4 separate regions of the Homo sapiens genome follow, and all the other regions are linked to region 1. Evidence: fine-mapped expression QTL. A gene starts in region 1. Each other region holds a variant in brackets. All regions are shown on one strand. Distances are from middle to middle.

Region 1 (8,112 bases):
ACAGACACACAGACCAATGGAGCATAACAAACACTCAAAAACACATCCCCAATATATGGTAAACTAATCCTTGACAAAGGCACCAAAAATATACAATGGTGAAAGGACAGTCTCTTCAAAAAATGGTATTGGGAAAACTAGATATCCACATACAAAACAAAATGAAAATGGATTAAAAACTTATAACACCTAAAACCATGGAACTCCTAGAAGAAAACACAAGAGAAAAGCTCCATGACCTTGGCCTTGGCAATGATTTTTTTTTTTTTTGATATGACACCAAAAGCACAGACAACACAAACAAAAGTAAACAACTGGGACTACATCAAAGTAAAAAGTTATTGCACAGCAAAGGAAACTCAACAAAATAAAAAGGCAACCTAAGAAATGAGAGATAAAATTTGCAAACCATATATCCAATAAGGGATTAATATCAAAAATGTATAAGGAACCCATACAACTCAATAGCAACCCAATTTAAAAAATGAGAAAAGGATCCAAACAGATAATTTTTCCAAAGAAGACATACCAACGGCCAAAAGGTATATGAAAAGGTGCTCAATATCACTGTTCATCAGGGAAATACAACTCAAAACCAGACTGCAATATCACTTCATACCTGTTAGGATGACTTATCGAAAAGTCAAAAGATAGCAACTGTTGCTGAGGACGTGGAGAAAGAACCTTTAGATACTGCTGGTGGGAATATACATTGGTACAGCCATTATGGAAAACAGCATCAAGGGTCCACAAAAAATTAAAAACAGAACTACCACATGATTCATCAATGCCACTTCTGGGTATATATCCAATGAAAATGAAATCACTATCTCAAGGAGATATCTGCACTCCCATGTTCGCTGCATCATCCACAATACCCAAGATATGGAAACAACGACTTAAGTGTCCATTGACAGATAAATGATTAAAGGAAACATGATATATATTATATTTTATGTTTACACAACACATCCACACTGGAATATTATTATTCAGCCTTACAAAAAGAACAAAATCTTGCCATTTGCAACAACAGAGATAAACCTAGAGGACATTGGGCTATGTGAAAAAAGCCAGACTCAGAAAGACAAATGCTACATGATCTCACTTACACACAGACTTTTAAAAAAGTCAAACTCAGAAGCAGAGAGTAGAAGGGTGTTTACCAGAGGTGGAGGGCAGCAGGGGATGGGGAAATGTTCTAAGGGCACAAACTTTCAGTTATAAGATGAGTAAGTTCTGTAGATCTAAGGTACAGTATAGTGACTATACTTAACATATTTACTGTATACTTGAAATTTGCTTAAAGAATAGATCTTAAGTATTTTCAACACCAAAAAATATGGTAGCTATGCGAGGTAACAGATACGTTAATTAGCGTGATTGTGGTAATCATTTCACAATTTATTTGTATACCAAACCATCACACTGTACACTTCAAAATATACAATTTTTGTCAATTTACCTCAATAAAGCTGGGGGAAACAGTTCTAGTCTTTATTCCTAATAAAAATCACTCAGCTAAAGAACACATTACCTTGCTCCAATGCTTAATATTTTATAGTACCCTAATATAACTCTCAATCTCTACCTACTCCAAAGTTATACTTAATTACACATGAATAATAAAGTTATAATAATACTGCTCTTTTCCCTCCTATTCATTTTTAAGAAAAGGAGAGCTAGTATACCATTTGGCGTTAAAGAAGAAGACTACAGTTGGAAAACGGATCTTTTCTAAAGGTGTGAATATGCAAACTAAATTCCCTGTATATGAGTTTCATAAGCATGAAAGTTCACTTCTGCATTTCTTCCACAAATATTTACTAGGCCTTAAGAATACAAAGAAGAATAAGACATAGTGGTCTCCCACCCTCAATAACTATGGATTAACCTCAGCAAATATTATTTCAATCCTGATGACAAGCAGTACTCTGTTCAATTCCAACCAATACATAATTTGGGGCAATATTATGGTAATTTTTATAATCAACAATGAATTATTTTTATTATTAAAAGTATATGGTAATCAACTCAAGGTTTATGTATTGGGGTTGTTATCCACTCCTACTAGTTCACGAAGTAAAAAAAAAAAAAAAAAAAAAAAGGACTAGGTCGCTAGTTATTCAGTTTGAATGACTCATGCTGGACCATCACAAATCTTCTTATGGAATAGACAGTAAGAGAAATCCCTGAGAGTAAATTGGACTCGATTCAACTTCTGGGAAAAAGAGAAAGGGAGAGGCGAATTATAAGCAATATGGAAATAATCTGTATTTACTAGTAATATTTCTTCATTTCTTCACCTTATATTTTTCTCTTCCTAAATTAGAAAAGGATTCTTTCTCCACCTTTCTCCTTTCTCTTTTCCTGTCTTGCTAAATCATGAAGAGACTTTAGAAGGGAATAGAAAATCTGATGGAGGTTTAGATACCAAACTTCCCCTATATCAAAACTAATCATACCCAAGTATAGGAGGGCTTCTCTCTGTAATTCAAGGCTGCACTTTTTGTTCAGGAGAAAAGGTGGCATGTATACTCGTGTTTAGATATGAATAGCACATATTTTTAAGTTTATCATTCCACCGGTTTTCATTTCTATTTTTAATGCCAAATTCCAGAAAGCCCACATTTTGGCAAGCATGGTAGAAAGCACTTCATTCCCTTTCTGGTTCCTCAATTACTGAGGTGCACCACTCTTCATCCAGGAATAAACTCCACTAAGTTCCAATCTCTTATACCTGCACCTCTATTCTCCTAGAAGATGCTGCCGATCCTGTTCAAACTCATTTGAGAGCAAGAGTGTCAAAGAGCTGGGGAGAGCTACCCCATCTTTTTTGCCACCAACTTTTACACAGACTGGTCCAGTTCTTACCATACAATTTCAAACATGCTTATACAAAGGTCAGAAAGACCTTTCCCTTGTCTATTTTACTGTGAGCATATATCTATTGCTTTCTGCTCTGAGGCATAACAGAGAAGGAAAAGGATGTTTTCACTTAATTATTAACATACTTTCAACTTCAGGTTTAAGGAGGTAGGCATATGAAAGTAAGCGCTTAACTTCATATCCTCCCACAGGACAGGAACAAAGGAGAGCATAACATTTCCCTAGAACCAGAAATTATTATGGATTGGGGTCAACTAAATTCTTTATAGGCACTGGTGACAGCTGCGACCTTAAAAGTCTTCCTTCATTTGGGAAAAAAAAAATCTTAACCATCTATTATACCAAACTTAAGATAATCATACACTGAGTTAAAAAAAAAAATACTCTCCACAGCTGACGCACATTACCCAGTGGGAAGGGAAGCCACGCACATCGCACATTTCCCTTTTTAAAGTACGTCTAGCCAATTCAAGAGTAACACAAAACATAGAGTCTAACAGCACATTATTAAACTTCCTCTCGGTATAAATCAGTTTAAAAATGAACATACACTTTAGAAAACAACAAAACACTAAACTTGTGAAGCTCAGAAAGAAGCCAGGAATATTCCTTTTAAATATGTTCTCGGTGGTTAAGAGGAAATGTCCGATGATGTCATCCCTAGATACTCCCTAGTGATGAACACTAACTACTGGTCCTTAAAGGGGGACCATTTTCCTGCAAACCGTGGCGGTCGCTGAGCTTTGCTCAAAGATTCTTTAACCAAAGTCAGGGAAGAGGGGTGTTCGCTGTCTCGGGCTAGAAATCAGGGAAGAGCGCTGGTCCCCGGGCCCCCAGCCCCGGCTCCCAGACCACAGGCGGCCAGGCCTGGGGCGGGCGGGGAAGGGCCTGGGAGCGGCCCAGCTGCACCTGCTCCTCAGGAAGCCGATGGCCCGGGGGCGGGCCGGGGTCTGGGGGTGGTTGTCCCCCATCGGGGCACAGCCCGGCCTCTAGCCGCCCGGTAGACTCCCCGCCCCCCACCTCGCCCCGGTTCCCGGAGGAAAAGACAATACATTTTAACGCCATTGGAGCTGCTGCTGTGCTGCGGCTGCTGCTTCTCCGCCTCCGCGGGGTGCGGCTCTCGCCGCGGCTCGCCCGGCGGCTCTGCGGGCTGCAGGTGCGGGCTGTCGCCACCAGTGGCCCCGGGCACCTCGGCCTTGTTGGCGTCCGCCATCCCGCCGCCGCTGCCTCCGCCTCGGCCGCCTGAGCTGAGGGGCTCCGAGCGCGACAATGGCGGCTGCCGGGGAAGCGGTAACGGATCCCGATTTGAAAAGGCCCCGAGCGCTCAGTAACCCGGATCTCGCGAGAACCGGTCGAGACTGGGTGACTGGGAGATGGTGTGTGCCGGGTGCGGGGGGTGGGAGTGCGGGGGGAGGGGAGCCATGGGAGCTGGGGTCAGGGCCGCTGTTGCTGCAGTCGGCCCTACACCTGCCTGGGAGGGCTGGACCAGTCCTGAAAGCCCCCGGTGGTGGTGCCATGTCTGCCCACCAGCCCGCCTGTCGCTTGGCACCAGTGGAGTCTTCGCTTGCAAAGCGGGATTAGACATCAAAGCCCTAACACCCAGACTGTTCAATTCATTCCAGGTAGGGGCAGTTAAAGAACACACCACTTTGCATCTTTAAAGACTTCTTGCAAGTCCTCAGACTGCCTTTAGAAATCCTTTGAATTAAGCAAATATAAGTCTCTTGCCATTTCAATGCCTAGGCACCCTTCGGACATTCCATAAATAGTTATTGATGACTGATTGCAATTCACCAAAAGGAATGACTTTGAATTTCTTTGAGAATTATTTGTTCTTAGGGGGTGAGGATTTCCCAGGAACTCAACTATCAGCTTAGTAAGAGAAGACTGCAGTTTTTCTCTGGACATCAATCAATATGGGGAATCCATAATTATAAAATATCGTCTACTAGATGGGCTAATAATGGACATTTGAGGTTTTGACTGTGTGTTTATTGTATACTGATGGAAATTCTAGTGAAGTAGTTAGTTATACGCTCTCAAATTTAATTGCCATATGGAGTTTTAAAATACAGTCGTAGATTTTTCCCCCTAAGTATGAAAAGGAAACCGTTAAATTTAATCAACTCCTAATTCTCGAGTACTATAATCTTTCACATTGACATAACCTTTTTCAGCTGAAAAGTTTAAATGCCTTCCCAAATTTTTTTTCCATGAAGAAGCAAACACGTACAGTTTAGTCACTTTGCAGAATATCATACACACATCAGTGGTAAAGTTATAGTTAGAAAGTAATACTCAAATAACATAATTTCATCTTCGGCTTTTCAATGTGTAGTTTCCTACCCTCTACCGAAAAATACCAAGTTCAGCTACTTCATCACACACACACATACACACACACACATACACAAACACACACACACATAATCAGAACATTTTAATGATAAGAATGCTATTGTAGTTGCTGTATAAATTGTTTCTCATTCAACTCTGAGACATAAGATTTATAATCGCAGAAAGGGCATTCAATTGTGACAGACAAAATCTGGGTTAGAACCCCAGCTCTGCCTCTTTTTGCCCATAACTCCCTGGGCAAGTCACCTCATTTCTCAATCTCTCTACAATAAATAGGGATAGCAATACCGACCTTACAGGATTGAGGTGAGGATTAAAAGAAAGCACTTTATGTAGGAAAAAGTGCTATATGAACATAATGTAATATTACAATTCTCTATCTCCCTAAGCTCAGCAGGGTTTTAGTCAAAGACAAGCCAAGTGATTTTTCCCACAGCACTAAATTATAAGTACTTTCAAAATAGTCATCATTCTGTTATTCTTTTGCTATTGTTGAATTCAGTATGAAAATTGAACCCCACCATCACCAGTACAATATATTCTTGCAAAAATCCTTTAATCAACTCAATGCAAGATTTTTTTAAGAGGCCTTTATGCTTCAAACAGAGTAGTAGGTACATGAGGAATACAAAAATGAGTACAGCCCTGTTGGGAGAGGGCTAATGTAAAAAGTACTATTTAAGTGCTATAATACAAATAAAAGCAAAGTATAATTAAAAAATTATTTACAAAAACAGGAGACTGGCCCACATGCCTTAGTTTGCCAATTAAAATATTCCATTAAAATATTTATCTTGATTACTGAGTTTTAACTTTTGTACCCAAGACAAATGCCTCACCCGCTGTAGCTTGGTTCTAGTCCTGATAAAGAGCAGAGGTTAATTCCTACTGAGAGATTGGTGAGGGCCTTATAAAAGAGCTGGATCTTAAAAGACAAAGAATTAAGGCAACTTCTGAAGGGAAGAGAATGATTAATCTTTACCATTCCATCTGACTGCTCAATAGATTGATCTTTCCTTCCTTTCTTGCTATTAATTGCAAAAGATAAAGAAAAAACTATTAATATTCTGTTGCTGAATTCCATTTCTGTATTTGCTTGTCTTCCTCTCTACTGTTTTGGTTTGTTTTGTTTTGTTTTGTCTTTTTTGAGATGGAGTCTCGCTCTGTCACCCAGGCTGGAGTGCAGTGGCGCCATCTCTGCTCACTGCAAGCTCCACCTCCCGCGTTCATACCGTTCTCCTGCCTCAGCCTCCTGAGTAGCTGGGACTACAGGCGCCCGCCAGCAGGCCCGGCTAATTTTTTGTATTTTTAGTAGAAACAGGTTTCACCGTGTTAGCCAGGATGGTCTCCATCTCCTGACCCTGTGATCTGCCTGCCTTGGCCTCCCAAATTGCTGGGATTACAGGCGTGAGCCAGAGCGCCCGGCCTTGGTTTTTTGTTTTTTGTTTGTTTGTTTTTTAGTGCATGTAGGTACATTGAAAAATTCTTAAGTGATGCTCAAATTCTTATTTTCCCATGATTCACATTGCAAAAGCATTATCCTTTGCAATTGCACAAAATATATTACTGGTACAACTTCACATAATCACTTAGTTTTCTTTCTTACAAATTAGAATGCATGTTTATGTGTGTGTACCTGGCGGGATAGGGGAAAAGCTATTACACGTATCTAGAAATCTAATCCTAGAAATCACAAAATATTTTCAATTAATACCTTAATATATGTATCACTTAGGAATTGTGTTCATCTGCTAATAACAATAACTAGAAATAATAGTGTCTTAAGCAAGATATACATTTTTACTCTCTTAAGTAAAATAAATGCAGAAGGAGCATCCCAGAGGATATATAGTAGCTTCACAGTCATCGTGAAGTCAGGTTCCTGCTACCTTAATCTTTCGCCATCCTAGTGTGAGGCTTCCATTCTTAAGGTTGCCCTATGACCCAAGATGGCTGCTGGAGATCGAGGCACCTTGTCGGCATTGTAGGTCAGAAGGAGTCCAGAAAAAAAGGGACCTATCCAGAAGTCTCACACAACACTTCCGCTTATGGGCAAGAACTTAGTCACATGACACACTCATCTGTGGGGGAGGTTGGCAAATAATTTGGGGGCTGGGCTTACTGCCCAGGGTTCTGTTACCAATGAAGAAGAGAATGGATGTCATCATTCTTCTTTTTTTTAATTTATTTTGTCTTTAAGAATTAAGTTTTAGGGATAATAATAAAATTTAAAAGAAAAAGAAACTAGACAAAAATGGTGGCTAACATTTCTATGGTGACAATAGCTTCTAAAAATACTTCCATATTTGTGCTGATATTCTAGCCCTAGAATTCATAATAAATAGATTACCTTCTCTGGGGTATTCAGAAACTCAAAAAAGAAAAAAGAATTAAACGGCAAAGACCAACAATATGAAGTAAAACAAAAAGTATGGTATAATTTTTAAGTCAATTTGCTTCACTATATAAATTGCTGGATTTGAAGGCATGAAGTTTCTAAACCTTACAAAGTAAAAATTTACCTCTTTAAAGCTTAAAAAGGAATTCGTAACTTTTTAAAATACTATGGTTTATATTTGAAATCTACATATGTATTTCCCTTTTTATAGAAAGTTCATTCTGTGATGAAAATGTGGACATTGGTTACTATCAAGTAGAAAGTAAAGTTTAATCTTATTCTGACGATTAGCTATTTACCATTCTCTCTCTTCTTCTCTTTTCCTCCTTTCTCTCTCTCTCTCCCTCCGTATCTCTGTATCACCCCCAATACACCCTCATTACACCACAGCTCTGCTTACTTTAGGAGTTCTTTTTTTTTAGCATTTAGCATTCCAAAAATACATCCTATACAAAGGTCTCTACCAG
Region 2 (8,112 bases), 130 kb after region 1:
ACTTTGGGAAAGAATGTCCTTTAAAACTCTAGTATGGTAAATTTTTAATTACAATACACATATCTATTTGTAGTAAAATATAAACCACTCAAATTAACTCAAAAGGAAATAGAATACCTGATAAAATCTAATACTTCAGGATAAAACACGAAGATTGTCAAAGATCTAGCTCAAAAAAGTTTCAACCCAAAGGATTTTTTCTAGGCAACTTCTTTTAAACTTTCAAAGAAAATATAATTACCATTATATTTAAGCTATTGCTGAACAGAACAAGATAAAACATTGTCTTTCCCTTTCTCAGTTATTTTGCAAAACTAGCATAAACTTGATACCAAAATATGACAGACCACAAAAATAGGATACAAGTCAATTTCTTGTATGAATAAACATAGGAAAATCCAAAATAGAATACTAGCAACTCAATTTTACCAATGTATTCAAACAATATTCCACTATAATCAGGAATATGGTATTCTAGGAATACAGATATATCTTATTGCTAGGAAATCAGTTAATTTAATTAATCCAATTTAGTGAGCATTAGTTACCATTTACTTATTCATATTTTTTGAATATTTATTTGTAAATGCATAGTGTACCTCTAGAAGAATGCATAAGAAACCAATTAGGGTTGACTTTGGAGAAGAAAACTGAATGAAGGACAAGTAAGAGATTTCATTTTTACTATATACAATAATAACTACTCAAAAACTAACATTTAAATAATTAAATCCATAAACAAGCTACTTGTCTGCCAGACTGTATTTAATGATTAACTCATGTTTGATCTGACATATATTGTGAAGGTCATATATAATAAATTTCTAACACTCAAAAATATATTATACCATCATTATTGTGTTGTGCTTATTCGTAAAATAAGTGAGCAACTAAAACGTCACTGTAAAAAGAAAAAGTTGACCCCATCACATACCTACTGATAAGCTTAGGTTTTTAGTTTTGTTTTTTTTTTAAACATGAGATCTTTTAAAATATATATATGCCTCTTTCTTGGGTGGAGAAAGTGATAGAGAAATATTGCATCAGATTTACCACTATGGCCCTGCAGACATTATTTAGGTCAGTAGGTTCATATTGCATATTTTACTTTCTGGAACTCAGGAATAGACAAGTATAATCTTGTGCTGTGTTTTGTTTTGTTTTGTTTTGTCTGGAGACAGAGTCTCTGTTGCCCAGGCTGGAGTGCAGTGTCGCAGTCATAGCTCACTGAAGCCTCTGAACTCCTGGGCTCAAGTGATCCTCCCACCTCAGCCTCCCAGGTGGCTGGGACTACAGGTGCAAGCCACCATGCTGAACTATTTTTTCGTTTTATTATTCCTTTTTCTATAGATGGGGTCTCACTCTGTTGCCCAGGCAGGTCACAAATTCCTGCATTTAAGCAGTCCTCCCACCTCAACCTCCCCAAATGCTGGGATTACAGGCAGCAGCCACCATACTCAGCCAAGTATAATCTTAATAGGTTCTGAGTTTTATTTTCTGGGCCAAATAAAACTCAGAATTGATATTATCCATAGTAGGATAGGGTAATTATTATAATGTGACTGAATTGTGTGAATCTATGCATTATGAGTATAGTATGTTCTTTCATCCTTTTAAACACAAAACCCAAGTGGGATGTGTATTAATTTTCTACTGCTGCATAATAAATTATCACAAACTTCATGGTTTAAAACAGTACCCATTTATTATTTCACACTTTCCATGGGTCGAGAGTACAGGCATATCTTTTATTTTATTTTATTTTATTTTATTTATTTTTTGTAGAGACAAGGTCTTGCTATGTTGCCCAGGCTGGTCTAGAACTCCTGGCCTCAAACAATCTTCCTGCCTCGGCCTCCCACAGTGCTGGGATTACAGGTGTGAGCCCTATGGCTGGCCAGACATATCTTAACTGGGTTCTTTGCTCAGGATCTTACTATACTGGAATCAAGATTTTAGCTAGGGCTACAGTCTCCTCTGAGGTTCAGGATCCTCTTCCAAGCTCAAGTGATTGGCAGCTGTATTAATTTTCTTGCTGCTATAGAACTCATGGCAGCTTGCGTCTTTAAGGCCACCAGGGAGAAATCTTTAAACTCTAGACCCTCTGTTAAAGGGCTTACCTGATTAAGTCAGGCCCACTTTAGTCAATCTCCCTTATGATTGAACTTAAAGGCCGGGCATGGTGGCTCACACCTGTAATACTAGCACTTTGGGAGGCAGAGGCTGGTGGATCACCTGAGGTCAGGAGTTAGAGATCAGCCTGGCCAACATGGTAAAATCCCATCTCTACTAAAAATATAAAAATTAGCTGGGTGTGGTGGCCCGTGCCTGTAATCCCAGCTACTTGGGAGGCTGAGGCAAGAGAATTGCTTGAACCCGGGAGGCAGAAGTTGCAGTGAGCCAAGATCGCTCTACTGCACTCCAGCCTGCCCAACGGGAGCAAGATTCCCTCTCAAAAAAAAATAATAATAAAATAAAATAATTTTTAAAAAGATCAAACTTAAAGTCAACAGATTAAGGATTTTAATTATATCTGCAAAAATTTTCATCTTTTCCTTATAAAGTAAGCTAATAATTAGAGGGGCACCCCACCATACTCACAGGTCCCTCCCAGACTCAAGAGGAGGAGATTACACAGGCCATCTTAGAATCCTGCCTTCAATATTGCTATCTCACATTTCTAGAGATCATATATATCAGCTATGAAGAGCCAAGCTGGGAGTTAGATAAGTTAAAAATGGTCCATGAAGTGTCCCCCAAAAAGTTCCACTCTCTGTGCATGCACAATAGATCATATTCATTTGGAGGGATATCTAGAACCATAAAAATAAATTAAACCTGAAAAAGACCTCAGAGATCCTCAAGTACTAAAATGATGTTTCCATACAGAACATTTGCACACAATTCTAGTTACATTGTTTTTCAGTCAACAAAATGTTAAATGAGCAGTAACTAGCCATAAGTGACACCAGGGATAATGCAGCAAAACATGAAAAACTTTTAACAAAGGAAATATAGAGCACAAAATTGCAGCAATCTGAGGTCAAAAACGTGAAAGAGATTCTACACACCCCAGTAGAGCTTGAGGACATCATTACTTTGTAAGAGGACAGACTAATGGCAGAAAAGCTCAATTTTGTTCCATGTATCCTGGTTAAGAAAGCAAGGATACCTGCACTGCAATTCACCCTCAGAAAAATTCTCGTCCACATGGCTGGCATCAAAAGATGGCTAAGCTTCAGTTATCTGGAAAATTAATTTACATAGACAGACTCTTTCTGCAGTTAAGCAGAGTATATGGAGCTCCAGTGTAAGATTTAAACAGTATATTTTCAGGTTAAGTAATTTAAGATGAGGAATGCAGAAAGGAGAACTTCTCAGAGGTTGAGGCCAAGAACCAGGTCATGAATGTCATTGCTTCAGAGAAGGTGACAAGCAATGACAACTGGGATAAGAAGACTAATTTCCTCCTCAGCCTGGGAGACATATTGCAGCAGAGGGTAGTTTGGGACAAAACTCAGCAGTTGACTTTGAGAGAAAGGCATAAGTAACTGCTAAACTGTGAGACTGCTGCAGACCCTGGGGGCTCAAGCCCAACCCTCTGTTGTCATGCAAGCCCCTGTTCTCACACAGCATGGCTTTCCCAGACTTTCAAATCTGGATCATCTGCTCTTTTCGATGCCCAAGAGATGAAGAAAAAGAGACTGACTTCTCTGTTATTATGTACTTGCACTTTCTGATGTTCCTATTGCACTTCTGCCCAACAAAGAGGTGGTAAAATTATTCTCAGGGAAAGTGAGAAGTTCAGAGGAGTAAGAAATAACAGGTATTTAAAGATGTTAGGCCAAGCACGGTGGCTCACATCTGTAATCCCAGCACTTTGGGAAGCCGAGGCAGGAGGATAGCTTGAGCTCAGGAGTTCGAGAACAGTCTGGGCAACACAGTGAAACCCTGTCTCTACAAAAAAAAAATAATAATAATAATAACAAACATTAGTCAGGTGTGGTGGTGTATGCCTGTAGTCCCAGCTACTTGGGAGGCTGAGGTGGGAAGGATCACTTGAGCCCTAGAGGCGGAAGTTGC[G/A]GTAAGTTGTAATTGCACCACTGCACTCCAGCCTGGGTGACAGAGCAAGACTCTGTCTCAAAAAACAAAAAACAAAAACAAATACAAAAAAAAATATTAAACAACTCCAGCTGCTAACACAACACGCACATTGGAAACAGATCACCATACTGTGATTTCCTAATGCTCAAAGATACATTTACAAAATGAATTCTACTAAAAAAAAGTATTATTTGTGCACTTTTGACTTAATGTGTCCAAAAGTGAGCTCTTACTCTTCCTTCCCAAAGGTGCTCTTTAACACTCTTCCTTCATCTCCATGCATGACAATGCTATCCTTGCCATGAATCTTCGAGTCATCTTTGACTCTCACACGCACATCTGATTTATCAGCAAATCCTATTGGCTTCAGAATATATCCAGAATCTACTCACTTGTCACCATCTCCACTTCTGCCTCTCTGACCCATGTTGCCACTGGACCATTTCTCACCTGGATCACTGCAGGAGCCTTCTCAAGGGTCTTTCCACATCAGGCCTAGCTCCTCCTCTGCCTCATTTCAACATCTTCTCAAAGGTCTTTCCACATCAGGCCTTACTCCTCCTCTTCCTCATAGCAACCCAAGCAATCCTGCCAAGTAAACTAGAGATTGTCATTCCTGTTACCAAAATCTTCTAATGGCTTCCCATTTCAGTCCATGGAAAAGCCACTGTCCTTACAAGAGCTTACAAGGCCCTACCCCTGCACCCCATCCACCTATTTCTGCGACTTCAACACCTACAACTGTGTACGCCTTCCTCTGTCACTGTTCAGACCACACTGGCCTTCTTACAGGTGAGTTTGCACCCTGGGACCTTAGTGCCTGCTGTGTCCTCTGCCTGGAATGCCCTTCCCCAAGATATCACTTCCTTCAAGTTAGGTAAAACAACCCCCAGCCCCCAGCCCCACAATCAGCAAATAGCATGTTCTCACTGAGGCCTTCCCTGGCTTCCCTCTCTGAAATCAGAAGTCTAAATCCCATACCTCCCTCCCTGCTTTACTTTTCTCCTTAACTCTCGGCACTACTCATTTGAATCACATCTTCTATCTGTTGTCAGACTTATTTTGTCTGTTCTGTTCCCTGCCATATCCTCAAAGTCTAGACCAGTGCCTGGCACATGGAACACATTCAACAGATATTTGTTGGAACGATGAATTAATACAGGGCACTGAGGGGACATGGCAAGTATGAAACTCCTTTGGGGTCTGGTCTCTGACTCACTATGAAGCCGCATTCTGCCCTGCTCAGGGCCCTTCCACACCAGCTATGCCCTGACGCACCACACACTCTGTACTCTCCAGAGCTCTGAATATGCTTATCCTGCTGCCTGGGATTTCTGACTCTCTCTCTCTCTCTTTTTTTTTTTTTTTTTTTTTTTGAGATGGAGTCTCGCTCTGTCACCCAGGCTGGAGTGCAGTGGCATGTCTCAACCCACTGCAACTTTTGCCTCTCAGGTTCAAGCGATTCTCATGCATCAGCCTTTCAAGTAGCTGGGATTACAGGCATGCGCCACTATGCCCGGCTAATTTTTGTATTTTTAGCAGAGATGGAGTTTCACCATGTTGGCCAGGCTGTCTTGAACTAATCTCAAATTATCTGCCCACCTTGGCCTCCCAAAGTGCTAAGATTACAGGCATGAGCCACCGCACCCAGCCTCACTCTTTTTTTTATGTTTTTGAGACGGAGTCTCACGCTGTTGCCCAGGCTGGAGTGCAATGGTGCGATCTCGGCTCGCTGCAACCTCGCACTCCCGTTCAAACGATTCTCCTGCCTCAACCTCCAGCGTAGCTGGGATTACAGGCACCGCCACCACGCCAAGCTAATTTTTTAATTTTTAGTAGAGACAGGGTTTCACCATGTTGGTCAGGATGGTCTCAATCTCCTGACCTTGTGATCTGCCCACCTCAGCCTCCCAAACTGCTGGGATTATAGGCGTGAGCCACCTCGCCCAGCCTCTTTTTTCAATCACTGTTATTTTTATCCTTATTTAGTTCACTACTATACTCACTTTCTCTTGAGTTGATTGGCCATCTGGTGTCAGTTCTTTTGTCAATTGATTCAACAAAAATGTGTCAGGCTGTAAAGACACAAAGATACACTGTTCTGAGCTCTTAAGATATTGGCATCCACATTCCCTGCCCTCAAAAAGTTAAAGGTTTAGACAGACAAGAAAACAAGTTACACATAATAATTACAAATTGTGAAAAATACTGTGAAGGAAATAAAGAGAAAGTGTTGAGACAGGATAACTCTGTTGACCTTGATGCCCTTTGTGGGCGGGAACTGGAGAGGCTCCTTTCACTCAGCCCACTGTCGGCCACTCCTCCCAAAAGAGAGCCTGCGAGCAAGCGAGTGCAGCAACCGGAGACAACACTGGAACTGGCCCATTACTCCTCTCTGGCAGGAGCACGCTCTGTGCAGGCCCTATAGCAGCATCCAAGCCCCTGCCCTCTCCGTACCCGGGCATCCAGGAAGAATCAGGCCACAAGAACGAATAGAAGGGTGGTTGGTGTATGCGGAGGATTTTACTGGGTGATATAAGTGGCTCTCAGCAGGATAAGGAATTGGAAAGGGGATGGGTGTGGGAAGAAGGTGATCTTTCCCTGAAGCCACACTGTCTGAAGTTAGCCACATCTATCCATAGTCTTGATGCTCAGCAGCTTGTACCCCCACCGCTCCGCTGCTTGTGTTGCTCTGCCAGTTGAAGTCTTTTTATGTCAACAGGATAGGGGCGTGGCAGGCCAAAAAAGTAACATTTGGGTGGAAAAACAGGGTCAGCTATTTTCACTTAGGGCTGTGGTTCCAGGCTTAAGGGTGGGGTGGGGAGGGGGTTTAGCCAGGAGCCCAGCTGTTCTGTATCAGTGTGACAGAGAATAATGGAAATAGTAATACTTTATTAGGGTACTCAGTGAGGATGTCTATGAAAAACACATAAGGATAAGAAGGTGCTGACAGTGTTGAACTTTACCGGAGCCCTGTGCTCCTGGAACACAGCAATCGTTAAGAAGTCTCCCCAGCTTTCTGTGTTCTAGAAATGGCTAACTGAAATCAACCACCATTCCCTATATGACTTAGACAAGACACTGCCAACTCTTTCTCATGATTCCTACAAGACTGTAGATGATTCCTTTGTTTACCTGTGACAAGGTCAAACCCAGACTTTTCCCCTTTAAACTGAGCCTGCACATAAGGTCAGACAGACACCTTCTAACTTTATTCTTTGTCTCATGGATGATTAGCTGAGATAAGTTTTGTCCTCATGAAACTAACTAGACACAGAAATAAACAATCCCAACTTTAAATTTACTCCACCTATAACTTGTCTACTCTTCCCTATAAAAATCTAAGACAAGGCCAGGTGTGGGGACTCACACCTGTAATCCCAGCACTTTGGGAGGCCAAGGTGGGCAGATCACTTGAGGTCAGGGGTTTGAGACCATCCTGGCCAACATGGTGAAACCCAGCCTCTACTAAAAATACAAAAAAATAAGCCGGGCATGGTGGCGGGTGCCTATAATCCTAGCTACTCAGGGGGCTGAGGCAGGAGAATTGCTTGAACCCAGGAGGCAGAGGTTACAGTGAGCTGAGATCACACCACTGCACTCCAGCCTGAGTGGCAGAGTAAGACTCTGTCTCAAAAAAACAAACAAACAGAAAAAATCTAAAACAAAACTATCCTGCTAGATACACTGTAGTAGGCTGAACACGGCCCCTGAAGATATCCAGGTCCTAATCCCTGAAATCTGTGAATTTTACCTTACATGGAAAAAGGGCTTTTGCAAATGTGATTAAGGATCTTGAGATGAGGCAATCATCCTGGATTATCTGGCTAAGTCCTAAATAAAAGCACAAGTATTTTTTTAAATTTAAATTTTATTTTACTTTATTTTATTTTAAATTCTGGGATACATGTACAGGATGTGCAGGTTTGTTACATAAGTAAACACATGCCATGATGGTTTACTGCACCTATCCACCCATCACCTAGGTATTAAGCACCACATGCATAA
Region 3 (8,112 bases), 36 kb after region 1:
TCACACATGATAATTTTTAAATCTGCCTCCTTTTTTAAAGTTAGTGTCACAATTTAAATATTATCATTCACCTACTTCCCCAATTTACAACAAAAGAAAATAGAATTCTAACTTCATTAAAAAAGAAATGGGATAAATTCACATTGTTCTTAGGACTGACATTCCCGACAGAGAAAAGTAGCTTATTTATAATTGCAAAAGCCATGGCTTATGTAAATCTTTCAATAAAGGGAGAAAAGCTCTGAAGGAACAGGTGTTTAGAAAGCCATCTAAAGCCTGGGTGTGGTGGCTCATGCCTGTAATCCTAGCACTTTGGGAGGCTGAGGCTGGTGGATCACCTGAGGTCAAAAATTCAAGACCAGCCATGACCAACTGGTGAAATCTCTTCTCTACTTAAAAAAAAAAAAAAAAAAAAAATTAGCCAGGCATGGTGGCACATGCTTGTAATCCTGGCCCTGGGAGACTGAGGCAGGAGAATTGCTTGAACCTGAGAGGCAGAGGTTGCGGTGAGCTGAGATAGTGCCACTGCACTCCAGTCTGGGCAACAGGAGTGAAACTCCATCTCAAAAAAAAAAAGAAACAGAAAGCCATCTAAATGACCACACAGTAGGAATGTTATAGCTGCATTAGATAAATGTAATAGCTGTTTGGAATATTGTATCACTTTTGAAGACATAAAATGAAACTAAAGACTGAACTTCGACTTAAAGCATTTTTTTTCTTAGACACAAAGGAATGGCAAATTAAAATATTAAAAATTAGGCCTAAGCTCTGAATAATCATTTTGAAAGTGTATAGTAATAAGCTACTCTTTTACAGACTTGATGCTCAGTTATCTAGGACCCTTCATCTTGATTAAATCATGAAGAGGTATCCACATAGCCAAATTGGGAGTAGAATTCAGATTCAACCACAGAATCTACAATGTGCACATTTCTGCAGCCAGGCCCATTCTAGTGTTGCTGAAATTGTATGGCCTAGCCTGGCTCTCCATGTGTAGCAGTCTGGGCCTTCTTTAATTTATCTTTTTATTGCTTGCTAATGAATTTGACTCAGCTACTCTCCTTACTTTTCCCCCCTCAAATATAAGAAGTGAAAACCTGCAATGTGCTGTAGCTGTGCTGCCACCTCCTTGTGGCCCTTGACATTTTTATGGTAGTTCCTCAAATCACAACTAGAAATCATCAACAGAACAAACATTATGTGATTATACTCAGACCCTTCACAGATTTTGTATGCAAAAAATATAAATAATAGTGTTTACTTAAATCATTTAAAAGTAGAAGGTAATTGACACAGTACAAGCTAGACAATACTTTTTGTAACTATGATTAGAATGCTTTTAAAAGTTATAATAGCAATAGCACATTCATACCGAATGGCAGAACATGGTTAGTCAGAAAACCAGTTGGATTTTGCGTAAATTTTGGTTATAATTTCCAAGTGAGAAAAAAGTTACATGACAAAATTATACTAATAGGTAAAATAAAAAACAGGTTTGAAAGACATTATTTTAAGGCTCTACCTTAAATGAAACTCTAGTTGTGATAGATATTGACAGAATTTATAATCCCAATGACTTGAGATCGTAATTGAAGAAATTCTTTTTATTATCTATGTTAGTAAAGAGCTAAATACCTATACTGGTGACCGTTAATTATAAATTTCTGAAAACTCTACTTAAAAGCAGGAGAAACAACTGTCCTTTACTTGCTCTCTACAAGCTATTGTATGAACTACATAACTTCTACTTATCTTGCAAGATGCTTGTGAACATTAGTTTCTATAAGTATAAAGTCTACCCTTACAATGAGTAAGAATTCAATAAATGATCGATGATGATAGTGGTAATTTTTATACTAGCTTTTTATTTTAACAGAAAAATAAATACAAATAAAATATTTAACAAATACTAAAAAATATGTAATAAAATGTTTCTCTTCTAACATCAATATTCAGTTATTCTCTCCAGGACAATCATTACTAACAGTTTCTTGTAAATCCTTCCAGAAATGTTCTAGGCTTATATAAACATACACATATATCTATAAATATCTGGATTCCTATCAATCTAACTTTCTGTTTATATTTATTTTCAAACATGTACCAGACGTATTTTCCACATTGTTCTGCACTCTGCAGTTTTTACCAAACATACCCTCGAGATCTTTCCGTATTAAAGCATATGTAATAATTATTTGACATCTGGCAAAGATTAATCTAGTGCCTTTACTTTGTAAAGAGAATTTTGCTTTCAGTATCCAGCCTAATTCCTGTGACCAACTTTTCATATCCAATTCCTTACTACAGGACTAACCAAAATGGAACTCCTTTTCAGCCTTACTAACCACCATTGTTGTTAGCATTTCAGAAAAATATAATTTAAAAGGATTCAAGGAAATATATAGACTTTCTATCGAAGCCATGTGTCATTGAAATAAGCTATCTATGAAAAGTATAAAATACTATAAAATTAAGACAAATATTATTCTTAAAGAAGCTAACTCTATAGAAACTAATCCAAAAAAAAATCAATGAAATGACTATATTTGGATCATTATGCTGTTAACAACTACAAATAATTCGTAAATAAAAGCATTAACTTTAAATGCAGTGTAGTAATAACCAACTTTTTGTTGAGAACTTGTTATGTTTCAGACACTGTGCTCACACTTAAAAAATTCTCACTCAATCCTTAACAACAACCCCTCAAGGAAGGTACTATTATTATTGCTTTTTTATGGATGGTGAAAGTTTTATAAAATGCTGTGGATCTTTTAGAAGAGAAAACAAAGGCTTGCAAAAGTCAATGAACTTCCAAGGTCAAGAAACCAAGGTCACATGCTCATAAGTTGAACCCATGTCTGCAGGACTCCAGAGTCCTTGATCTTCAGTTCTACTTTCCATCCTCAGTCTGCTTTCCCTTGGCACTTTTCATTAACTCATTCAACAGCTGTAGAGAATGGTGGGACTCAGGCACGAAGAAGAAAATCACACTCTGTCATGATGGGCTGAGCAGGAGGTACTTCCTTGTTTCAGTCCTTTTTTCTGAGACTGTGACAAAAGATTGTATTGCTTGTCCTACA[G/A]AATTAATTATGTCTCAATCATTTTCATTGTCACCATCAAAAGCATTTATTAAGCATGTATTTACAAGAGTTTCTGTGTAAAGTGAGTTAAAGTGACTTGACCTCTTTCCTCTAGAATTTTTTTTTTTTTTTTTTTTGAGACGGGATCTCGCTCTGTCACCCGGGCTAGAGTGCCGCGGCGCAATCTTGGCTCACTGCAAGCTCTGCCTCCCGGGTTCACACCATTCTCCTGCCTCAGCCTCCTGAGTAGCTGGGACTACAGGCGCCCGCCAGCATGCCCGGCTAATTTTGTTTTGTTTTGTTTTTTGTTTTGTATTTTTAGTAGAGACAGGGTTTCACCGTGTTAGCCAGGATGGTCTCGATCTCCTGACCTCGTGATCCGCCCACCTCAACCTCCCAAAGTGCTGGGACTACAGGTGTGAGCCACCACACCCAGCCTCCTCTAGAATTTTATAAGTCAAACGACATCGTTATGGATACGAATAAAGGAAATGTAGTCAAGTTAACAAACATTAAACCACATAAATCAATGTATTAAAATATACATTAAATGCTTATCTTCTATAAAAGGACAAAAATGTACGAATGTTTTCTCTAGAAAATAACCTTTTCTACAGTGTTTCAAAGTTCAAATTTGCAACTTTAGCATTCAAATTGGGGATATCTGAAATTAGAAATAATTACTAAGCTAACAACAGCCAAATAAAATAGACATTAAAATTGAAGCAATAAATGCCTTAAAGTCCAGTGACCAGAAGCCACCCTTAAAATATTTGTTGGAGTGAACCTCTGCAACTAAGAGTTCATTCTGATACTTTAGTTAGAGTTTCTTAGTACTCAGGGCCAGTTCCCCGGGGAGCTCACACTATTAAAACAATCTCTGGGAAAAAAAACAAAAACAAAAACAATTAATTTTTTATTATAAATAGTTTAGTAATACATGGCAAGAAGAGCAGTAGTTCCCTTAAACTTATACTTGGAAAATATTAAGAACCTTTCCATTTTCTTTTTCATATGCCAGTTTATTGCACATAGCTAACTTTTGTCCTAAATTATCAAAAACACAAGTCAATTTGTGTGTGAGATATGTGTTTTCAGCTATAGTAAATGCACTATGATTACAAATTGTGACCATTGGTAGTGATTTATAGGCATAATGTGTAATAACTTTCAAAACAAGAAAAAAAGACTTTCATTTTCATAATTTAAAATATTGCCTTTTATCACAAAGGGATAGAAATGTATAAACATAATAATATTGATCAGTAAGGTATGGAAATATGGTTAGAATCATATGTTTTTCATTCTGAAATGAAGCTTAGGAATCATCTGGTTCTTACTGGGATTGGTTTTTAGATAATTGAGTGGCAGGAGTGGGAGGGGCTTAGGTTAGGTGGAACAAGTTTGGCCATATGTTGATCATTGTTGAAACTCAATAATGAGTACCTGAGATTTATTTTGTTATTCTCATTACTTTTACATATGTTTGAATATGACAATAATAAAAGAAAGTTTAAAACAACAGGGGGATCATCTAGGTGTGAATATTTATGGAACTGTCTCTCGGTGGTGGTCTAAAAATTCTATCAACCTGAGATTAAAGGATCAAAATTCAAAAGAATGTATAAGTAGCAAATATTATCTAGTTGGAACTTAAAGAATAAATATATTTATTTTCCCTGCTTTGATGATAGACATAAAGATGTAAGTAACAAATAGTATCTAGCTGGAACTTAAAGAACAAATATATTTATTTTCCTCAGCTTTGATAATAGCTATAAAGGTATCTGATATGTTTCTGGGGTCTGAAAAATCACATTACATATTAAATAAAATAATTTAATCTTTCATTATCAAGAACTCATTGCCCTTTAAACTGCATGTGATTGAAGATTCATTAGTTGTCAAAATTGGAGTGGGGATAATCTGTTATCAAGTGGTCTTCCTTTCTTTTCATTTTTTAAACATACTTTATTTTACTTTTCCTGAATCCTTAACACACAGTTAAAATTCTTAGTAAATAAATAATCATTCCCTAAAGCTACATAATTTAGAATACATTTATAAAAGGTTATGGGTCATCATTTATGGTAATGGGAGTGTGAACAAACAAATTAATTCAATGTATGAAGGGAAAAACTGGTTTCAGGCAGTAATCATAAAACTTTTAGTCTTTGAGACTTTGGCCTCAAGAACATGAACCAGCTGGGAGACTGCAGGCCACCTGCTACACAGCTCATAGCCATCAAGTCCCCACAAACCCTCCACCCAAAGTCATGTTCAGTACTTTGATGATGAGTTTACAACTGCTGTTCTGATTTACTAAGGAGGCATTTATTAAAGAGTGAAACAAAGGTTTGCTTTGCCATGTCAGAACTGTAAGATGGCAAACAGAGAAAAACAATTTTGCCTTAGAGTAAATTACTTCAAGATAAGATTTTCACAAAATCCACTGGATTTATTCTTATTGGCAGTATTCAAGCACGGTTAAACACCTTGATGGAGGACGTACCCTGAATGAATTGCACAACCAAAACTAGATTCCAAGTATCCTAGTTTATACGGTGCAGGATTTTTTGGCTCCTACATGAGAGTAAGCAATGGAAATGGCTTCTGTGCTTGTAAATTTACTGTCAGACCTTAATAGTCAACAAAAGAAGTATACATTTGGGGTTTTTTTCCCCTCTATGGTATAAATATATTTAAAACTTTGAAATTCTAGCAGGTTGAACATATTATTAATACCTAAGGGAGAGTTGAACACCCTACATTGACTACACCTTTGAATAATTTAGAAAATGATTGCTTTACTAACTTGCACATATAGTGGTTTCCCTGTCATCCTCTCATAGAATATTCTTTTTGCATCATATTGTGAAATCCTAGTGATAAATTGAAGAACCATTAAACTGTGACCAGGAAGGGCATCCATCAGGAAGGAAAGTTCATTTTAGAGGAAATTTTAAATACCCTATTCATCCTTTAGCCTACTTTGTAAGATTTGTTTACAGTCTTGGATATTCTCATCAATTCATATCTAAGGGTCACAATCACCATTGGAGTTTATCAGCTAGCAGAGCAATTTCCCAGACCAAATCTTCAAGTTTAATCAGAAAACATAGGTTTTATTCCCAAGACCATCTTTAAAAAAGGCAAGCAACTAAGGCTGTGTCTCTTGGGATCCCCAATTAATCTACACAAAGAAAATTGCCCTCTCCCAAAGTGAGTAACTACTGATGGTCTGGCTATGGGATTTTGATTAACTAGAATATTGACAATTTTTTTTAAAGTTTTTCTCAAATCAAACTAAATAAATAGATCTCCTAACAAAATAATCCCTTCAATAGTCATGGACATTTTAACACATTCCTCAATTCCCTGCTCTCATTGATTATACATTTCAGTTATGAAAAAAATGAAAGTTACATTTGACCTATTCAGCTGCCGTATGTGTATAGAATTCTTTCAGAGAAAAACAGAATTTTTAATGGACTGGAAAACAGCCTCAAATGTTTCATGCATCTGAAATTGACTGCATTGCATAGACCTATGCTGTCCAATATGGTAGCCACTAACCACATGGGGCTATTGAGCACTTGGAACATGGCTAGTCCAAATTGAGATGTACTGCCAGTGGAAAATACACACTGAATATCAAAGACTTAGTATTAAAAACAGAATGTAAAATATTTCCTAATATTTTTATACTGATTATATATTGAAGTAATATTTTATAGATATTCTATTAAGTAAAATACATTACTAAAACACTCCTGTGATTCAGTTCCCTACAAGTTGGGGTGCAACTATTGCTAATAAATACTTATATTGCAAATATTAGAAATATGATATTCTCCAAAGATTAAGTATATCTTTAAAATGTAAGGGTCCATCTCTAAACCTAATTACTGCACCAATTTCTTTTTCCTTTTTAAAAAGTAGAAAATTTTGAATTACATACTTGGTTTGCATTTATAGCTGGTATAGATGACCAGTTTCTGCCCCACTATGTTAGCCTCAATTTTTTGGACTGCGTTTATTCTTACATTGGTGTGAATACATTATGTTAGCTTTCAATTATTTGTGCAAATAAGGACTGAGGATATCTAAGATTAACATATTCCTCAGGTAATTAAAAGCTAAATTTTAATTATTAACTTCAATCTCCTCTGTTATTCCATTTTTTCCCAATACTGTCAGAAAATAATAAAATAATCTGTCTTAGGATTCAGTCCCTTCTTCTTCCCTTTTAAATGTGACCTACCCAGAAGAAACAATAAGAAATGAGCTGTCCCATAGAGATGGAAGATAAAAGAAGTAGGAGGCAAGAATGGATAAGAAACTAGGATATCTGCTCTTAAGGGGTAGAGATCACGAACTTTCAAGTCCACCTTCTGAATTCAACATTGTTTTGTTATTGTTGTTTTTGTTTGTTTGTTTGAGATAGGGTCTCACTCTGTCACCCAGGCTGGAATGCAGTGGCACAACTGTGGTTCACTGCAGCCTTGACCTCCCTAGCTCAAGCAATCCTCCCACTTCAGCCTCCCAAGTAGATGGGACTAGAGGTGCATGCCACCACACGCAGGTAATTTTTTTTCTATTTTCTGTAGAGATAGGGTTTAGCCATGTTGCCTAGGCTGGTCTCAAACTTCTGGGCTCAAGCAATCCTCCTGCCTCAGCCTTCCAAAGTACTGGGATTACAGGCATGAGCCACTGCACCTGGCTGATTCAGCATTGTTTATTGATGGCCTGCTACATGCCAAGCCTTTGGCTGGTACTGAGAAAAAGTAACCCACAATTTAGAATCATCCTATAATAATGGTAATTAAGTGCTGAATCTTTCTCTGATTCACTTGTCACACAATGACTCTTATGACTCTGTATTATGCTGCTTATCCAAGTGTCACAATAGTATCATGAACAAGGTCTCAAGAAAGAAGAGTTTGAGGAGAAATCCTTACAAAGACAAAGAAAATGCACTCACCTCGGGAAGGAAAAGCAAATAAATAAAAAGACAAGGAGAAGA
Region 4 (8,112 bases), 89 kb after region 1:
CATAGCCAAGTTCAACAGGTTCAGCAAAAGGTAAGTTATTAGTTAAAAGTTGCAAGTTGCATCCTCCACCAGTTTTACCCTATGTATCCTGACACATATAAGCACTGCCTTTGTCAATGAGTTTCCTCACTTATGTCATTCATAGTAGATGCAGAGATATCCAAACCAATCATCCCAGATAACTTAATTTGAATTTATGTACCTGTAATTCTCTGGGCACACTATGTTCAGTTCTAGAAGTCTTATGGGATCAGTTGACACTTACCTTTCCCAGGTGCAAAGGCATCATACTGCAGCAGTTCCTTATTCATATACTTCTCAATTTTACATTTAAAAATAGGAATTTTTTTATTAAAATGAATAAACAGATATACATTTAAGGATCAAAAGTTAATTGAATTGAAAGTCGATTCCATTGACCTGGGATTTGGAACACAAATCAGATAAAGTCATTATTGTCCAAAAACACGCCACTTACCTCTTTTCTCAATTTTGCTTGTCTTACCTTGCAAAAGGCTTTCAGGTTTACAGTGGCATCTTTTATCAAGTACATTATGTTGTGCTGGTGGCTGAAGAAATAAGAATTTTTTAAAAAGATTGATTCTGTTTTTAAATTTTGAAACACTAAAAAAATTAATTAGGTTGAATCATATAAAATTTGCATTTTTATAGATCAAAATCGTTTGATACTGGCAGTTTCATATGGCTCACTATATAAAATTAAATGAGACCTTTAATTTATATTCTACTTTTCCTAATTAATGACTGTTAACATTTTGGGCCAGATGCAGTGAGTCCCTGCCTAAAAAAAGAAAAAAAATTGGTTATAGAAGCTTCTACTCACTTTATTTTTATTTATTTATTTATTTATTTATTTGAGACAGAGTCTCCCTCTGTCACTTAAGCTGGAGTACAATGGCGCAATCATAGCTCACTGCAGCCTTGAGCTCCCAGGCTCAAGCAATCCTCCCACCTCAGCCTTCCCAGTGTCCGGGACTACAGGCATGTGCCACCACACCCAGCTAATTTTTGTATTTTTTGTAGAGACAGGGTTTTGCCATGTTGCCCAGGCTGGTCTCCAACTCCTGGGCTCAAGCGATTTGCCCTCCTCGACCTCCCAAAGTCCATTATAGGTATGAGCCATTGCACTCGGCCCTCCACTCACTTTTTAAATGAAATAAGCCATTACAGATCAAGTTAAAGCCCCTTTTAATACCACTCCAGACCCCTGGTTCTCTCTGTTCCCAGAGGCAATGTTATCTGAATTTTATGGGTATTCTTCTCATCATTTCACACACGGATACCAAAATGTAAATCTATTTTCATTCATGTTTTTCTTATTCATTAATGTTACTTTAAACCTGATTGTCCTCTCCTGTAAAGGAGGAAAGGGATGGACTTTGACCGGCTCTTAGACTTTTACCCTGTTTCTTTTTCTCGTTTTTTTTCTAAAAAATTATAAAATATCTTAAGAAAACCTAAGGCTCTCTTTGAATTCTCTGTTTGAGGAGTTCTCAATAAATCTCACAGAAGACACCTACCTCTTAACTCTTGAACTGCATAAGGAAGGCAGTTCAAGCCCTTATAACCCAGGGAAAACTAAATTCTCATTTCTTCTTCTATCTTTCAGCCTCCTCTTAATCTCAAATTTCACATCCACCAAGGAAAAAATGTATTCTTTCTAGATGCATCTTATTTTTTTTATCAGTGAGCCTCTGTTATGATGTTAATAAAATAGTGACATGACCAAATATTGAAAGAATGAAATGACCTATGAATGGGCACTAGCATGTATGGTAAGATAATATGGACCAAATCAGAAAGGGAAAAATTTTCTTTCCCACAATTCCAACCAAAGCATCCATGAAAACAAAGACAGACTAATAAGACTTTCAATGTTAAAAAAAAGAAAAAAGTTGGAAGGAATACTGCACTTGGTGAATTCCTCTGTTTGATCCGAATGGGGTTGGAACCCCTTTACAAACTCTTTTTCATGATAGTCACGTATTTAAAGTAACATCACATCAACTTCTCCACACTACATAATTAGAAATGCTTTACCCCTTTCTCAATTAATATCAAAGTTATAATATATACAAGATTTTTAAAGCTTCTTTGTTTGAATCCTGAATTAATTTATATACTCATATTTTGGATCCCAACTGAAGCTAATCTCTATAATATTATAATGGGGTAGTAAAATTCATTTTTGTAACTATGGCATATTTGAATGTTGAATAATTGTATTCCAGTATGTCTTTTCTCTTTGCTAGTTTGCTTTATTCTTACCACATTTGTATTGCAGCCTTCCTTGCTTCACATTAATAAGTGTGCTACAATGATGTTATAATCGTTTTTAGCAAAGAGAGATTCTGCATGAAACATTTTTATGACTTCTCAATATGGCAAGTTTAGGCATTAAAGTAAATCTCTCTGTCACAATTAATGTTTAATCTGGATTTTTATAATACTAACAGACATACATTAGACTGTGTTTATTTAAATAAATGCCATTCTCCCCAGGGGTTCACAGTCACTGTGGTACAACTCACTACACTGATGGTTCAAAGTATTTCCTGTTTGTTATTCTTCTATCTAATGGCTGCTGTAACCACTGAACTTCCTTGAATAAAATATTCTTTCTTTTTTTTGCAGTTGATGAAGTTTAGAATGCTCAAAGAAGGACTAGTGATTCAAAATGCATTGACAATCTGGAAACCTGAGCTAAATTGATCCATAATGGCATATCTTTCCTTAGACTAGGTCATCTAGTTTAGTAACTACCCTGCCAATCTCTCTATCTTTTCTATCTTCATGGAAGTTTCTTGTTTTTAAATTTTCCTTTAATGGGAAGTCAACCAAACTGTTTTGAAAAGTTGGCAGGTTCTAGGAAATATGCTGGAAAAAATAAGAATATAAAGAGTCTGATCCAATTTAAATAGAATATTAAAATGGAAGGGACCCCAGAGATTGAATGTTGTGTAATAGAAATATATTATGTGCCATATATGTAATTTAAAATTTTCTAGTAGCCAATTAAAAAGGAAAAAGAAATAGGTAAAGTTATTTTTAATAATATTGTATTAACCCAGTGTGTCCAAAATATTGTAATTTCAATATAGAATCAATACAGAAACATTAATGAGATATTTTACATTCTTTTTTGTAGTAGGACTTTGAAATCCAGTGTGTAGTTTATGCATCCAGCATATCTCAATGTGAACCAGCCACATTTCAAATGTTCAATAGCAGCATGGACATACAGGCTATCATATTGGGCAGTGATGACCTAGGCAATTGCCTGAGTTTTATCAATGTAGAACATACCTCAAGAGAGGACAAATGGCAGACCCAGGGTGTCAGCCAGTCAGTGCCAGATCTCAACCCAACATTCTGACTCACAGTTCAGTGTTCCTGCAAGCACAGTGGTAAAATCACATCCGGGGCTTTGATGACATTGCACTAGGTACTTTATTATTACTACTTAAAGCAACCTTGCACGAGCAAGAGTTTATCCTCATTTTAAGGATAAGATACAAAAGCTCAGAGATAAGGAATTACCTCCTCAGGCTTAGATCTGAGACCTGTTTTGTCTGACCGCAAAGCCTGGG[C/CT]TTTTTTTTTTTTTTCATGCATCCCAATGTCCTTTCTCTCCAATCTAAGACCCTTTAAGACCGTGACTCCAAGTGTGGTCTGTCTAAGGAGCAGCAGCATCTGTTGCCTCCAGGAGCTTGTTAGAAATGCAAAATATTGAGCCCTGCTTCAATACCCACAAGGCTGCATTTTATCAAGATCCCAAGTGATTCATGTAAAATCTAAGCCATCTCAACAAAATACAAATCTCTCTATAAATTAAAAGAATTTCCTGGGAAAATGGATTTGTACCCTGTCAGACATATGGCAGATAATCAGAAATAACTTTTGGATTGAATTACATCATGAGAAGAAAAGAACTAGCTTGGACATTTAAGGAAGGAGAAATAAAAATAGAATTTTTCATTAAAAATGTGTTTCCAGAACTAAATCTTGAAATTATAAAATGCCTTATCAACCATCACAACACCTGTCTTCTTCCCTCTTAATCTCTTCCACTCTTCTTAGGTCATAGGTACGTAAACCTTTGTTCCCACCAAATTCATTGAATGACAAGGAAATGTTAATGTATTTGAATGGAAGTGTGGCAACATTACACAGGGAAAAGTGGTATAAGGGTATTTTTGCCACACGAAAAAGCAACGCATCAGCCAAATAGAATTGACAAGATGTGCAGTTCATGGCAGGATTTGCAGGTCACCATGTTCTACCTCCCATGGAGCTCTGTCCATTTCTTGAAATTAGGCTCCAGCTGAGATTTCTTTCGTGTTCCTGAAAGTGGCTCTCGCTAATGAGTCAAAGGTTGATTGTGTATTTATCCTAAGCCTCTTCAGTCACATTTTCAGTATTTTCCTTGTGTCATGTTGCCCTCAACTCTTCCTTTCATTCAGTGTCAGGCAGTAAATTAAGCAGATGTTAATCAGTCTAGATGTTTTGGGTAGAAAATGAATGGTGTGAATACCGCAGGTCATCTCCAAAAGGCTGAATCTGTGGAACCCTGTTCAGTGAGGTGTTTTTCCCTCTTTCCCATTTCTTAACTCAATGGGGCATTGCTGGCTATTTTTGTCCTTTAGAAAACAACAGCAATGTGATATATAATAGCAGGGTTCTAACCAATATTTCATTGTGTCACACAGGGACCGCGCAAACTGTGTGTTAAGGAGATGAACAGTGGCATGGCGAAAAAACAGGCCTGGCTTATAAAGAACAAAATCAAGGCTTTTTATGCTGCAGTGGCGGCAGACTGTTTCAGGGATGGTGTCCGAAGTCTTCTTCAGGTAAGGCTGCATTGAGGGAATGAGCACAGAGGCAAAAGACAATTAGTGCTCCATGTTAATAAGGCTCCCAAAGTGAACAGCTGTAGTTAGGCAGCCAAGCATCAGAGATCAGTGCAGATGGTTAAGGGATTATTTTGAATTCCTGGGTATAGGCAAAGCTAGAACAAAAGCAGAGAAGTTCTATTACAATGAACTATGAATGATACACTGGAAACGGAAAATGAGGTTGCCTTTGGCCACCAGCATACATTCTGCCCCCGTACTTATTGAAATGCAAATTTGTTCTGGTGGTTGACGACATTCAGGATCCTATTGAAACTTCAAACTATTTTTATATCTCATACTGCATATAGCAATGCTCAAGTCAGGCATTCTTTTCCTTTTTTCTTTTGCAAATGGTGTTAGGGCAGCTGCTAGACCAACTAAATTAATGCATGGTGATCTGGGCATAAAATCTCCCTATCCTCCTGAATTATTTCCAGAATGTTGAATAAAATGTAATAATCTCTACAGCTCAACCTTAAATCCCATAGTTCTCACATCTTTTTTCCCTTATTTTTTCCTTTTTCCTTCATCTCTGCTATAGTAAGTACATAAAATCTTTTCCTAGTTCTGATCGTCATAATTTAGAGTGACAAAGAATCCTTAAAACAATCCAAGAGACCCTCAGAAATTGTAGAGCTTGGCTTTCCGAGCATTTTGGGTTTAATATGGTTGAAAACCCTAATTATATATATATGAAATGGTGCATTTGGCTTTCAGAGTTACTGTATTTCAGAGTGTCAGAAGTCAGAACTGCATCCAGGTAACTCAGATGCGCATGCAGGCAGGAAAGAAAAAATATTGGTTAAGCTTAATTGGTAATATTTTGGAGCTTAAGAGTATTTGATGCAATCCTGTGCCTAATTTCCCTTAAGAACACTTGCGAAGTAGATGCACGTACAGAGAAACAATTTCTGCAAAACCTATTACCCACAATGAGCCTCTTTTCATCTGTTATTAATTTGCTAAACCATGGAAATAGGTGTTATTGCAAGATGCTGATTTTTCTTTCAGTACCAAGTTAGTTTTCAATAGCTCTTTGGTTAAATATGTTGTCACTATTAGTCATTTATTATAAAATTATCATACAAGATTTTAAAATAATATTTTCAACTAGGAATGGGAATATGGACATAAAATAAGAGCAGGGAAAGAAAAGACACAAGTATGAAAAAGAATTATTAGAATCCAGAAGAAATGGTAGAAAATTTGAACATGCATACATTCATATGAATTTCTTCACATAAAAAGTGAAGTACAGGAGAACCATGGCAAAAGGACAAGACATAGCACTATGCAATTCATAGGTGCTTAGTAATATTGTTGAATTAAATTTGATTAACTGGAAGCTGTATGCTGTCATCTAATGAAGGGAAACAACACTTCTGATATGGAAGATGGCTATTAATGATACTGTCACATAAAAGAATTAGGTTTTGGAAACATAATTCAGTCACTCTTCAATAAATAACATAAGTAGAGATTTTAGTGATCCTTGTACATAAGAATTTTCCAAACATGGATTTTATTGCTAATGACATTATGGATATAACAGGTGGAATTGAGCTTTGAACCACTAAGTTACAACATGCATACCAACAGTTAAGCTGACCCTCACTTGATTTTAAATTATTGAACCATTTTAATGACTGTGTCAGAAGAAATGCAAATGACTGCTAATTTAGAAAAGCTACATTTCTGTCATCTAAAATCCATTTATAGCTGGGATGATTTAGAATTAATCTTTCCATTTTATGCTTGGGTACGGGCATGAAGGACATGCACTAAAATGTAATCTAATCTTCAGGATCTTCAGAACATTACTTCAGTGCTCCTTTAGACATTATTTTTCATTTGTGATGGTAGTTTCCCAGTACGGTAAGGATTGCCCACATTTTTATGTCCTCTGTTTAGGCCTCAGGCTTAGGAAGAATGAAACCAAACACTCTGGTGATTGGATATAAGAAAAACTGGAGGAAAGCTCCCTTGACAGAGATTGAGAACTACGTGGGAATCATACAGTAAGTGATGGCTTTCAAGACGTGTTCTTGTTTATAAAGCACTAAGCAGGGCAGTACATAACTTGTACTGCACATAACACTGTTGTGTCAGATTAAATTGCCTGAGAAGAGTACATTCCCCTGGTACTCTGACTTCTTTTCCAAGGTGAAAAAAACACCACCAATAATAGAGTTTGAGGGAATCAGAGTGTCAGAGGAGGCAGGGTGAGAGAAACGCCCGTGTCAGAGAAAAAAGTAAATGTTTAGAGTTACAACCTTAAAATCTATTTACAAGATTAAAAGGAAAGCACAGCTAAGCAAGGAGAAATTTTTCTTTCAAAACACCTGGAATCTTGGGTTGGCTGGTGTCTCCAATTCAGTCATTGTCTTCTTCTGAGCCTCTGATAATTCGTTCACTATCCCAGAGCCCTATATCTCCCTCTGCTAAGAGGCTCCCATATGCCAGGTGCTTCTGCTACCAGGTGGAGCATCATTGGCTTGTGCACAGAATGTGAGTTTCCGGTGGTACATAACCTCTAATAGCTAAATATTTGAGGAGACTTAGGATGTAAGTAATAATGATAGATCTTAAAGGACTAGCAGGCTGCAGGCTAATGTCTTTAACATGTATTATCTCATTTAATTCTCATAAGAAGATTTCGAAGGAAGTACTAATATTTTTTCCCATTCTACAAGTGGAGAAAAAGACATTAAAAATTAAGTAGCATGCTGAAAAATCTCAGCATTTAGTGACAGAGCTGGAATTCCAACCCAGGACTATCCAAATTCAAAGTTGAAACTCATGACTATAACGCTATGCTTTCTCTATATATTATATACTCCAAAACAAGTATTATATATTTTATACTATATATATTATATATTACATACTCCAAAGTATTTCATATATATATTATATACTCCAAGTATATATATATTATTTATATATATACACATACACACAATTGTGGAGTATATAATATATAATACTTATGTGTGTATGTGTGTATATATATATATATATATATATATATATATATATACACACACACACACATAATACTTGGAGTATATAATATGTAATATTTGGAGTATACATATATACTTCAAGTATTACCTGGCTTGGTTTCTTCCTTTGAATAAGAGAAAACAAATTCTACACATACAGAGAGAAACACTGTAGAAAGTTGAGCCTTTCAACC

Alleles and levels. Alleles are on the strand shown, and positions count from the first base shown. SD is a standard deviation of normalised expression in the study named. Not every link is listed here.
As copies of G replace A in region 2, the expression in whole blood of the gene that starts at base 4,160 in region 1 goes down (large effect, 1.1 SD a copy in Lepik 2017).

What was found. PIP is the estimated chance that this variant, and not a neighbour inherited with it, causes the effect. A credible set is the group of variants that fine-mapping cannot tell apart.
Region 2: its variant is the best candidate, but not a certain one, in a credible set for the expression of MYEF2 in whole blood (Lepik 2017, PIP 0.71).
Region 3: its variant is the best candidate, but not a certain one, in a credible set for the expression of MYEF2 in whole blood (TOPMed, PIP 0.60).
Region 4: its variant is the best candidate, but not a certain one, in a credible set for the expression of MYEF2 in whole blood (INTERVAL, PIP 0.89).

What each region holds. Positions count from the first base shown.
Region 1 is chr15:48,174,136-48,182,247 of GRCh38, forward strand. It overlaps MYEF2 (myelin expression factor 2), which reads right to left and starts at 4,160. Exons shown (of 17, transcript NM_016132.5): 1 at 3,942-4,160. The coding sequence starts at 4,102. It also overlaps a transcript of CTXN2 not described here. RefSeq lists silencers at 3,502-3,671, 3,702-4,131, 4,302-4,401 and an enhancer at 4,104-4,755.
Region 2 is chr15:48,308,785-48,316,896 of GRCh38, forward strand. DUT-AS1 (DUT antisense RNA 1) reads right to left here. Exons shown (of 3, transcript NR_186809.1): 2 at 6,111-6,179; 3 at 1,684-3,957. It overlaps LOC124903486 (a long non-coding RNA gene), which reads right to left. Exons shown (of 2, transcript XR_007064625.1): 2 at 7,940-8,112. Among named protein-coding and RNA genes, the nearest start is that of DUT, 19 kb to the right of the region's middle. The variant G/A (reference allele first, on the strand shown) is at 4,084.
Region 3 is chr15:48,210,299-48,218,410 of GRCh38, forward strand. The region is part of intron 2 of SLC12A1 (solute carrier family 12 member 1); the gene reads left to right. Among named protein-coding and RNA genes, the nearest start is that of SLC12A1, 8.1 kb to the left of the region's middle. The variant G/A (reference allele first, on the strand shown) is at 3,087.
Region 4 is chr15:48,262,834-48,270,945 of GRCh38, forward strand. It overlaps SLC12A1 (solute carrier family 12 member 1), which reads left to right. Exons shown (of 27, transcript NM_000338.3): 18 at 4,728-4,868; 19 at 6,825-6,931. Among named protein-coding and RNA genes, the nearest start is that of SLC12A1, 61 kb to the left of the region's middle. RefSeq lists a silencer at 3,305-3,505. The variant C/CT (reference allele first, on the strand shown) is at 3,612.